4 separate regions of the Homo sapiens genome follow, and regions 2, 3 and 4 are each linked to region 1. Evidence: fine-mapped expression QTL. A gene starts in region 1. Each other region holds a variant in brackets. All regions are shown on one strand. Distances are between the middles of the regions.

Region 1 (2,685 bases):
ATTCTTCTTACTTGAGGAATGATGCCACAGAATATAAAGGCGACACTTCTTGCCCTCTAATCTTTCCTTGCCACAACACAAAACCTGTGCACTTGGTTACCTAGAAAATTGGAAGGTTCCCCACAATGGATGTGCATCAATAACTGTCATAAAAATATCAGATCTCTGGCACAGACAGGAAAAACTTTATCTAGTTTGCAAGAAATTAAACCCTGCAGTCCTCCATCTGCTACTGGGTTTGGTATGGGCTGTCCCTTTCTAGGGCCTGTGCCTGTCTTTGAGGAGAGTGGCCTGGCCCCACAGCACGCTAGGAGCAGCTCTTGAGCCGGATCAAGACCCTCCCGAGCAACGTCTGCACCCAACCCTGCATCTCTCATTTCAGACACACCCCCCTCCACCCCGTGTTTCATAGGAGGTGTGGGCGCTCAACTCCTTCACTGTGGCTAGGGGGACGCGAGGGGAGGCGGGCCGAGGCCTGAGCACCCATTTTGGAAGACCGGGGAGCTCGGCCCTCCGGGCTGTACGATTTGGAGTGTCGGAGGGAAGGGCGCATCCGTGGGAGGGGGAAGGAGGCCGGGGTTGCTGGGGGGTCTCTCGTATTCCGGGGCGTGAGAGGAAGGCGGCGGGAAAGACTCCGGAGAGCGAGGTTTATCAGCGCGAGGTTTCCTTTTTGTTATCTGCTGAGGGATGGCGGGCGTCATGGGGGCGTCCCCCTCAGTAAAGTCAGCAAGGGGGTCCCCCTCGCTTCACCGGGGGGCGGGCGGGGGGGCCCGAGGACTTGACGGAGGCCTCCCCCGGGGACGAAGACAGTGACTGACGAACGTTGTGGGCTGCGCGCGCCGGGATGCCCGTTCCTGTCCCTGCAGCCCCGCGCGCGAGGTGTGGGACCGGGTGGGAGGGGACGGAGAAGGCCCCCGGCCCGGGAGGCGGGAAAGGCCCCGGGGCTCCGGGACGGGCGGCGGCTCCAGAGCCCCGAGTGGCGGCGGCGCGGGCCTGCCGAGTCCCGAGCCGGCTGGCGCCCTGTGGGCCGTGTGCACCCCCGACTCCACTCGCCGCTCTTCGTGGTCGCCCCCTCCCCCCCGCGGCTCCTCTCACCTGCACATGATCCGCCATTTTGCTCCATTCATGCTCCTCTCCGGCCCCCCCTCCCCCCCAGCGCGCACCTCGGCCGGAGCCGCTGCCGCCGCCGCCGCCGACGCCGTCGCCGCTGCGCCTGCGCGCTGGGGACTCGTCGCGCTGCGCTCGTGGCGTAGCGCCGCTCAGCTGCGCAGGCCCCGGCGGCCCGGGCCGTGGTTGGAGAATGCGCAGCACCGCTGGGACGGCGTAAAGGCGCGGGCAACGTCAGCGGCCCGGAGACGCCGGGTGGGAGGAAGGAGCGGGCCGGGGGAGCGCGAAGGAGGGGCAGCTGGGGGAACAAAGCTTTGTTTACATGGTTTTTAAAGGGGCCGCGCTCGCTCCGGCAGGCGGGCGCTGGAGTGGGAGTTGGCGCTGCCTTCTGCTCGTTTGCGTGGTGAGGGCTCCTGGATGGGGGCCGAGGTCTGTCGCCGCCCCGGGACCCCTGCACCCAGTGGCTTCCTCTCTTCCCAACCGTCTTCCCCCTTGACTCGCCCCTGGACGTCTCCCACCCCCACCCCCACCCCACCCTGCAGCTACGGGGACCCCCCACACCCCACCTAGGCTGCCTGCGAGATTCCTTACTTTCCAATGCCCTCTACTCAACGGGGGCCGATTCTGTGCTTGTGTCTGTCTAGCTTTCTGGACCAGGGCCATCGCTCTCTGGTCTGGATTTCACCAGCAACCCCAGTGGTTGATCTCGTGTTTTTCATTTCTGTCCTTTCGTCCTTGATAAACATTCATGGAAATAACCACCGAATGGTGGTGATGATCAAAACATACGAAGGCACAGTTCTGGCTTCCCAAAGACATTGTCCTCGTTGCCAATACTCTAGACTGCCTCCCGAGAGGGTCAGATGCTGGAAGAGGCAGCGGGGCTGGTGGTTAGGACCCCTAGGCTCGGTCTTGTGGAGGTATGAGTGGGAAAGCCATCTCTCTGGGTCAGATAAGGTCAGCCCCTGCATGCTGAGGCCAATTCCAGTCTTCCTCACTAGGAATTATCTGTTAGATAATGCCGGTTCCTGTTTTCCATTGGATTCCACTGTGGCTTCCTTTTAAGGCCCCCAGGTTAGATCATAGCTGGATTCTGAGAGCACTGATTGTTTGAAGTTTGTATTTACAGGGGACTACCATCATATGCAAATGATGGTGGTAGTGAATTACACACCCTTGGTGGATGTAGTGGACCGGTGCTCAGCATTCATTTCGACTTCCGTCCTCCTAGTAGGTCTTCCTGGTTTGCAGAGGTAGGGCACCTGGAAACTACATTACCCAAACTTCCTTGCAGCTAGGGTTCTGTATGCAAATTAGGCTCTGCCAATTAGGCTGACTCAGAGAAGATTTAAGAGGCAGAAGATTTAAGTGGCAGAGCTTTTGACTGTTAACTTCTAGCGAGCATAGACCTTTTCAGATGTTGGGTTTTTGTTTTTCCCCAAAACCTCCCAGCGTCCAATCATTAGCTCCGAGCGTATAAAGAGGCGGGGTGATGGGGTCAGTGGCTTTCTGAACCTGGCATCGGGCAATGAAATATTCTCAGAGTCACAATTGCAATGGAAATTCTTTGGATTCCCT
Region 2 (2,685 bases), 110 kb before region 1:
TTTTCCAGAATTGATCAAAGACATAGATCCTCATGTCTGAAAACCTAAGTCCTGAACAGACAAAAAAAATAAATCTACACCTGAACACATCATGGTAAAACTATAGAAAATAAAAACAAAAGACATTATCTTAAAATAAGCCAGAGAGGAAAGACATCTCCAAAAAGGGAATAATCAGACAGATTGAGGACTTCAACAGCAACATTGGGAACCAGAATAGAACAGCTTCAAAGCTGAAGGAAACTCTCTATCTAGAATTATATACACAGCCAAACCATCATGAAGGAATGAGGGCAAAATCATGATATTTCCAGACAAAGCCTGAATAAGTTTACTATTCTCAGGCTTACTAAAGTATGTTGCTAAAAAGGATAAGAAATTAGATCAAGAAGGAAGAAGTGGGTGCTAGAAGCAGTGGTAACCAAACTAATTGGTAAACAAAGTAAACCTACATAAGAATTAACTGGAAAATACAATAGTACTAGTAATGAGTAGTGTTGAGTAGGCTGACAAGTTGGAGCTAGAACACTTGATAATAATATTGAAGTTAAAAAGATGAGAATCAGGCCAGGTGCGGTAGCTCACACCTATAATTCCAGCACTTTGGGAGGCCAAGGCAGGAGGATCACCTGAGCTCAGGAGTTCAAGACCAGCCTGGCCAACGTGGTGAATCCCTGTCTCTACTAAAAATACAAAAATTAGCTGGGCATGATGGTGCATACCTGTAATCCCAGCTACTTGGGAGGCTGAGGCAGGAGAATCACTTGAATCACCTGGGAAGCAGAGGTTGCAGTGAGTCAAGATTGCACCACTGCACTCTAGCCTGGGAAACAAAGTGAGACTCCATTTCGAAAATAAAAAAATAAAAAAAGGAGAATCAGAAAAGCTCCTTGGATTGTCTGGGAGGACATAAAACATTAATTCTAAACTTTGAGTAATGTATGATTGTTAAAAAAATTAAAGATAAACAGTAAAAAAATTAGAATGAGATTCTATAACTTCCAAACCAGTAGAGAAGGGGAAAAGGAACTTTAATTAATCTAATAAAATATAGGAAAAGGAGAAGAAAATAAAAAAGCAAGGAAAGTAGGGGTACAAAGTACATGCCACAAATCCAATTACATCAGCAATCACAATGAATACAGACTATACTGGCCAGATAGAACAAAATCTAGCTACATACTGTGTAAAAGATACATACCTGGAACATAAGACATAAAACACACCTGAAACAGAGAGGTTGCTGAGGCCAGAACACAAAGGCTTCGAAGCAGGCCATAATACACTCTCGGCTCTTATTCCAAATGAGAGAGAGCCATGACCTAACTATTCTAGCAGAGAAGCCACATGATCTAACCTGTGTTTAAAAGGATCTTTTTGGCTGGGCATAGTGGCTCACGCCTATAATCTCAGCACTTTGGGAGGCTGAGGCAGGTGGATCACTTGAAGTCAGAAGTTCAAGACCAGCCTGGCCAACATGGTGAAACCCCGTCTCTACTAAAAATTACAAAAAAAAAAAAAAA[T/AT]CAGCTGGGCATGGTGGGGAGCGCCTGTTGTCCCGGCTACTAAGGAGGTGGAGGTTGCAGTGAGCCGAGATTAAGCCACTGCATTCCAGCCCTGGTATCAAAGCAAGATTCTGTCTCAAAAAAAAAAAAAAAAAAAAAAAAAAATCTTTTTGGCAGCTGTGTGGAGCACAGACCAGGAAACTTTCTGTTAAGAGCCAGAAGGTAATATTTTAGGTTTGCAAACCATATGGTCTCCATGGAGACTACTCAAATCTGCTGTTAGGGAGGAAAAGCAGCCATGGACAGGGTACAAACGAATGAGTGTGGCTGTGTTCCCAGTAAAACTACTTACAAAACCAGGCAGCAGCCTAGATTCAAGCCCTCTAGTTTGCCTACCCTGGAATAGACTACAGGGGACCATGTGATGGTAGGTAGACCAGGTGGAAGGCTGTGCAATTAAAATGGAGCCACAGGCAACTGTCACCTGTACCAGGGGTAGCAGGGAAGATGATGAGATGTGGTCCATTGGGGTATAAGATGGGGGCAGAGACAACAGGACTGCTGGTAGATCAGATATGGGTGTGGGAAAAAAGAGGATTTGGCTGGGTGTGGTGGCTCATGCCTGTAAATCCAGCACTTTGGGAGGCCAAGGCGGGTATATCACCTGAGGTCAGGAGTTCGAGACCAGCCTGACCAACATGGCAAAAACCCATCTCTACTAAAATTACAAAAATTAGCCTGGCGTAGTGGAACATGCCTGTAATCCCAGCTACTTGGGAGGCTGAGATGGGAGAATCACTCGAACATGGGATGCGGAGGTTGCAGTGAGCCGAGAGCGCACCATTGCACTCCAGCCTGGGTGATAAGAGTGAAACTCCATCTCAGGGGAAAAAAAAAAAAAAAGAGCTTTGTCTTGGCTAACTGGAAAAACAGCTGTTTTCTGAGAGAAAATCAGGTTGAAGGGGAGGCGGGTGGATTAGAGATAAAAATTGAATATGTGGATTTAGACATGTTAAATTTGGGATATTTATTAGATATCTATCAAAGCCATTTAGTTGGATATAGGACTTGGAGCTCAAGAGAGGTTGAGTTTACAGAAATAAGTTCCTGAGTCTTCATTTGTTTAGATGGTCTTGAAAACCACAGGAAAGGATGAGATCGCCTGCAAAGTATGTGTAAATAG
Region 3 (2,685 bases), 100 kb before region 1:
TCTAGGGTTATTTATCCCAGTAGTGGAACTGTTTGAATCATGTGATAGTTCAATTTTTAGTTTTTTGAGAAACCTCCATACTACTTTCCATAATGGCTGTATTAACTTAATTCCCAACAACAGTGTATGAGTTCCCTTTTCTGCACATCCTCGCCAGCATTTGTCTTTTTGATAACAGCCATTCTAACTGAGGTGAGATGATATCTCATTGTGGTTTTGATTTGCATTTCTCTGATGATTAGTGATGTTGAGCTTTTTTTTTTTTTTTTTTTTTTTTTTTTTTTTTTTTTTTTGAGACGGAGTCCCGCTCTGTCACCAGGCTGGAGAGCAGTGGTATGATCTTGACTCACTGCAACCTCTGCTTCATGGGTTCAAGCAATTCTGCCTCAGCCTCCCGAGTAGCTGTGACTACAGGTGCTTGCCACCATGCCCAGCTAATTTTTGTATTTTTAGTAGGGACTGGGTTTCACCCTGTTGGCCAGGATGGTCTCGATCTCTTGACCTTGTGATCCGCCCACCTCAGCCTCCCAAAGTGTTGGGACTACAGGTGTGAGCCACTGCACCCAGCTGAGCATTTTTTCGTATGCCTGTTGGCCATTTGTTTTCTTTTGAGAAATGTCTATTCATGTCCTTTGCCCACTTAATATTATGTTTGTTTTTTGCTGTTGAGTCATTTGTATTCCTTGTATATTCTGGATATTAGTCCCTTGTTAGATGAATAATTTGCAAATATTTTCTCCCATTCTGCAGGTTGTCTCTTAACTCTGTTGACTGTTTCTTTGCGGTGCAGACGTTTTTGGTTTAATATAGTCTTATTTGTCTATTTTTGTTTTTGTTGCCTGTGCTTTTGAAGTCTTAGCCATAAAATCTTTGCCTAGACCCATGTCCTGAAGCATTTCCCCTAGGATTTCTTCTAGTAGTTTTATAGTTTCAGGCCTTATGTTTAAGTCTTTAATCCATTTTGAATTGATTTTTGTATGTGATGACAGATGGGGTCTACTTTTCTTCTTCTTATCAATATCCAGTTTTCCCAGCACCATTTATTAAAGAAGATGTCCTTTTCCCAGTGTATGTTCTTGGTGCCTTTGTCAAAAAATCAGTTTGTG[G/A]TAAGTACATAGATTTATTTCTGGGTTCTCCATTTTTTTCCATTGGTCTGTGTCTGTTTTTATACCAATACCATGCTGTTTTGTTACTATAGCTTTGTAGTGTATAATATTTATATTTATATTTGGGGCAGGGTCTTGCTCTATGTCCCAGGTTGGAGTACAGTAGCAATTTCAGCTCACTGCAGCCTCCACCTCCTGGACTCAAGTGATTCTCCCACCTCAGCCTCTGAAGTAGCTGGGACTATAGGTGTGTGCCATAATGCCTGGCTACTATTTTTTTTTTGGTAGAGATGGGGTTTCTCCATGTTGTCCAGGCTGGTCTCAAACTCCTCTGCTCAAGTGATCCACCCACGTTGGCCTCCAAAAGTGTTGGGATTACAGGCATGTGCTTGCCCACCCTGTAGTATATTTCGAACTCAGGTAGGGTGATGCCTCCAGCTCTATTCTTTTTGCTTAGTATTGCTTTGGCTATTTGGAGTCTTTTGTGATTCTATACAAATTTTAGGATTGTTTTTTCTGTTTCTGTGAAGAGTGTCGTTGCTATTTTGATAGGGATTGCGCTGAATCTGTAGATTGCTTTGGGTAGTATGGCCTTTTAAATTTAATTTTATTTTTATTTCTTATTTTAAAAATTTATTTATTTATTTTTCAGGCAGGGTCTCGCTCTGTTGCCCAGGCTGGAGTGCAGAGGCACAATCATAGCTCACTGTAACCTTGAACTCCTGGGCTCAAGCAATCCTCCTGCCTCAGCCTCCTGAGTAGCTGGGACTGCAAGGTGTGTACCACCATGCCTGGCTAATTTTTAAAATTTTTTTGTTGTGTCTCGTTATGTTGCTCAGGCTTGTCTTGAACTCCTAGGCTCAAGTGATCCTCCCTCCTAGGCCTCCCACAGTGCTGGGATTATAGGCACGAATCATCGTGCCTAGCCGTAGTATGGCCATTTTAACAATATTAATTTTTCCAATCCATGAGCATGGGATGTCTTTCCACTTTTTTGTGACCTTTCCAATTTCCTTCATCAGTGTTTTGTAGTTTTTGTTGTAGAGGTCCTTCACTTCCTTGGCTAACTTTTATTCCTTGGGACTTTATTTTTTGTAGCTCTTGTAAATGGGATCACTTTCTTGATTTCTTTTCTATTTTATTATTGGTGTATAGAAATGCTACTGATTTTCATATGTTGATTTTTGTATCTTGCAACTTCACTGAATTTGTTTATCAGTTCTAGGAGTTTTTTCAGTGGATTGTTTAGGCTTTTCTATACATAAGATCATGTCTGCAAAGAGAGACAATTTGACTTCTTCTTTTCCAATTTCTTTTTATTTTATTGTTTTGTTTTATTTGTTTATTTATTTATTTATTTTCTGAGATGGAATTTTGCTCTTGTTGCCCAGGCTGGAGTGCAATGGCACGATCTCGGCTCACCACAATCTCCACCTCCCGGGCTCAAGCAATTCTCCTGCCTCAGCCTCCGGAGTAGCTGGGATTACAGGCATGTGCCACCACACCTGGCTAATTTTGTATTTTTAGGAGAGATGGGGTTTCTCCATGCTGGTCAGGCTGGTCTTGAACTCCTGACCTA
Region 4 (2,685 bases), 40 kb after region 1:
CACGCCCAGCTAATTATTGTATTTTTTGTAGAGACGAGTTTCACCATGTTGGCCAGGCTGGTCTCGAACTCCTGACCTTAGGTGATCCACCTGCCTAGGCCTCCCAAAGCCCTGGGATTATAGGCGTGAGCCACTGTGCCTGGCCTCAGATTCACAATCTTATCTGTTATTATCTTTATCAACCTTGCAAGTAAGAGGGCCAGAGGATTCCATGTCAAAGAAGAGGGGATTATAAGAGAAGACTAAGGCCAACCCCTGCGTCACCCACTAGGATCACCCATGTTTCCTCCACTGTGGGCCTAAATGCCTTCTCTGCTGGTTTTCTGAAGCCAGGGAAAAACTCCATAATGAGAAATTCTTGTCTTTGGCTGAAACTTTCAGTCCTTCACGACAAGACCAAATAATCATGGAAAAGATAGCATGGGAGTAATTTCCAGCTTTGTGTGCAGAAGGTTACTAAATCCTTTCCTGATGCCAGGCCTTGGTAGTGGGAGAGTAGAGACAGCGGAGGGTAGTGGGTGCTTCTGCAGAAGGGGTGGGCAAGGAGAAGGCCCTACTGCGGGGTTGGAGGCACTGAAAGCAAACTGTCTAATGCTCAGTTTTGTACAGATCCAGACTCACTCTGTGGTTTCCCTCCTCCCTGACAAGAGGCACAGAGGGAGCATCCTGGCCCAGAGCTGTGCATGGTAAAGACTCACAGTGCCACCTTACCACCATGAGAGAAATGGCAATCATCTGGACTCTGGTCTAACCAGGTGACCAACTTTGGTTGCACTCTCTGTGGGCCTCAGTTTCCCACAAAAATATTGATGGGGCCGGGCGCGGTGGCCCATGCCTGTAATCCCAGCACTTTGGGAGGCCGAGGCAGGCAGATCACGAGGTCCGGAGATTGAGACCATCCTGGCTAACACAGTGAAACCCTGTCTCTACTAAAAATACAAAAACAAAATTAGCTGGGTGTGGTGGTGGGCGCCTGTAGTCCCAGCTACTCGGGAGGCTGAGGCGGGAGAATGGCGTGAACCCGGGAGACGGAACTTGCAGTGAGCCGAGATTGTGCCACTGCACTCCAGCTGGGCGACAGAGCGAGACCCCGTCTCAAAAAAAAAAAAAAAAAAAGACATTGATGGCTTGGGGTTTTATCAATGCTTCCTAGGCATTTGGTTTTTAAATTTTAATTAATTCATTAACTTTTTATTTATTAATTTTTTTGAGACAGAGTCTCTCTCTGTCACAGCCCAGGCTGGAGAGCAGTGGCAGGATCTCGGCTCACTGCAACCTCCACCTCTCTGGTTCAAGCGATTTTCCTGCCTCTGTCTCCTCAGTAACTGGGATTATGGGCGTGTGCCAC[C/A]ACACCCAGCTAATTTTTGTATTTTTAGTAGAGACAAAGTTTCACCATGTTGTCCAGGCTGGTCTTGAACTCCTGACCCCAAATGATCCACCCACCTCAGCTTCCCAGAGTGTTGGGAATATAGGTGTGAGCCACCACGCCTGGCTGGCATTTGATTTTTTACTTTGATCTGTAGTGAGACATGTGTTTTACATTGGGACCTAGTACATACATTCATATTTGTACATGTATATATGGATATATACACATATACATTTGTGTATATACATACACACATAGAGATTTATGCATATATATTTGTGTGGATATTATTTATTTATTTTTATTTTTATTTTTTTTTGAGACAGAGTCTTGCTCTATTGGCAGGCTGGAGTGCAGTGGCATAATCTCGGCTCACTGCACCCTCCGCCTCCCAGATTCAAGCAATTCTCCTGCATCAGGCTCCCGAGTAGCTGGGACTACAGGTGCGCGCCACCACACCCAGCTAATTTTTGTATTTTTGGTGGAGACGGGGTTTCACCATGTTGACCAGGATGTTCTCGATCTCTTGACCTCGTGATCTGTCTGCCTCGGCCTCCCAAAGTGCTGGGATTACAGGCGTGGGCCACCGCGCCCGGCCATGCATATTATTTATATGCTAATCTATCTATTGAACCAAAAGTTGCAAGACTTGCAGTTTGAAAAACAATAGATTAAGTGGTCGATAATGCCCTTTCCGATTCTGATATTTTAGGCTTATTGCTAAGCCAGTCAGTGATTGATTAGTTTCACGTGCAGTTAAAAGTTACAGAGATATGTTTATGTAAAGCCTTTAGCACAGGTCAAGCTCACAGTTAGTGTCCTGTGACTGTTAATTGCTACTTATACTCTCATTTCTCAGGATTGACTTCAGCAACTTCTTCCCTTTGGTTTTTCCCTGTAGGCACTTCTCATTTTCTGCCTGCTGTGTCCTGTAATTTTTGATTGTGAGACAAAAAATTCTCTCTTCAGTCTCTCATCTTTCTCTCCAGGTTTTGTCTTCTGAATCCCTTCCCTTCATGTTAATCCATATTAAAAGCCAAGCTCCAGGTCAACAGGGATCATCCAATCGCCTCTCACCCAACCACAGGCCTCACTGGGCACTTACCTCCTGGGATTGGGCTTTGCAATGATTTTTGACCTTTGAAGATTTTTCTTACTTTTCTACTAGCTCAGCTATGCATTTCCGAAATTCATTTATTTTGAATTTCAAAATTAATGAATCCTTACTGGGAGGATTTTCTGGACATCTAAATTGCCTAGGACCTGAAAATGACAGGTCCTGTAAGTACTTCTCAACAGAGAAATCCTACACACTG

Evidence for each region.
Region 2: its variant is fine-mapped to the expression of XPO7 in whole blood (INTERVAL, PIP above 0.99).
Region 3: its variant is fine-mapped to the expression of XPO7 in whole blood (TOPMed, PIP above 0.99).
Region 4: its variant is fine-mapped to the expression of XPO7 in whole blood (TOPMed, PIP 0.96).

Annotation. Positions count from the first base shown.
Region 1 is chr8:21,918,199-21,920,883 of GRCh38, reverse strand. It overlaps XPO7 (exportin 7), which reads right to left and starts at 1,222. Exons shown (of 28, transcript NM_015024.5): 1 at 1,096-1,222. The coding sequence starts at 1,113. RefSeq lists a silencer at 866-1,305.
Region 2 is chr8:22,027,324-22,030,008 of GRCh38, reverse strand. All of the region lies in intron 5 of NPM2 (nucleophosmin/nucleoplasmin 2), which reads right to left. Among named protein-coding and RNA genes, the nearest start is that of NPM2, 4.5 kb to the right of the region's middle. The variant T/AT (reference allele first, on the strand shown) is at 1,524.
Region 3 is chr8:22,019,518-22,022,202 of GRCh38, reverse strand. No RefSeq gene overlaps it. Among named protein-coding and RNA genes, the nearest start is that of NPM2, 3.3 kb to the left of the region's middle. The variant G/A (reference allele first, on the strand shown) is at 1,107.
Region 4 is chr8:21,877,757-21,880,441 of GRCh38, reverse strand. No RefSeq gene overlaps it. Among named protein-coding and RNA genes, the nearest start is that of DOK2, 35 kb to the left of the region's middle. The variant C/A (reference allele first, on the strand shown) is at 1,349.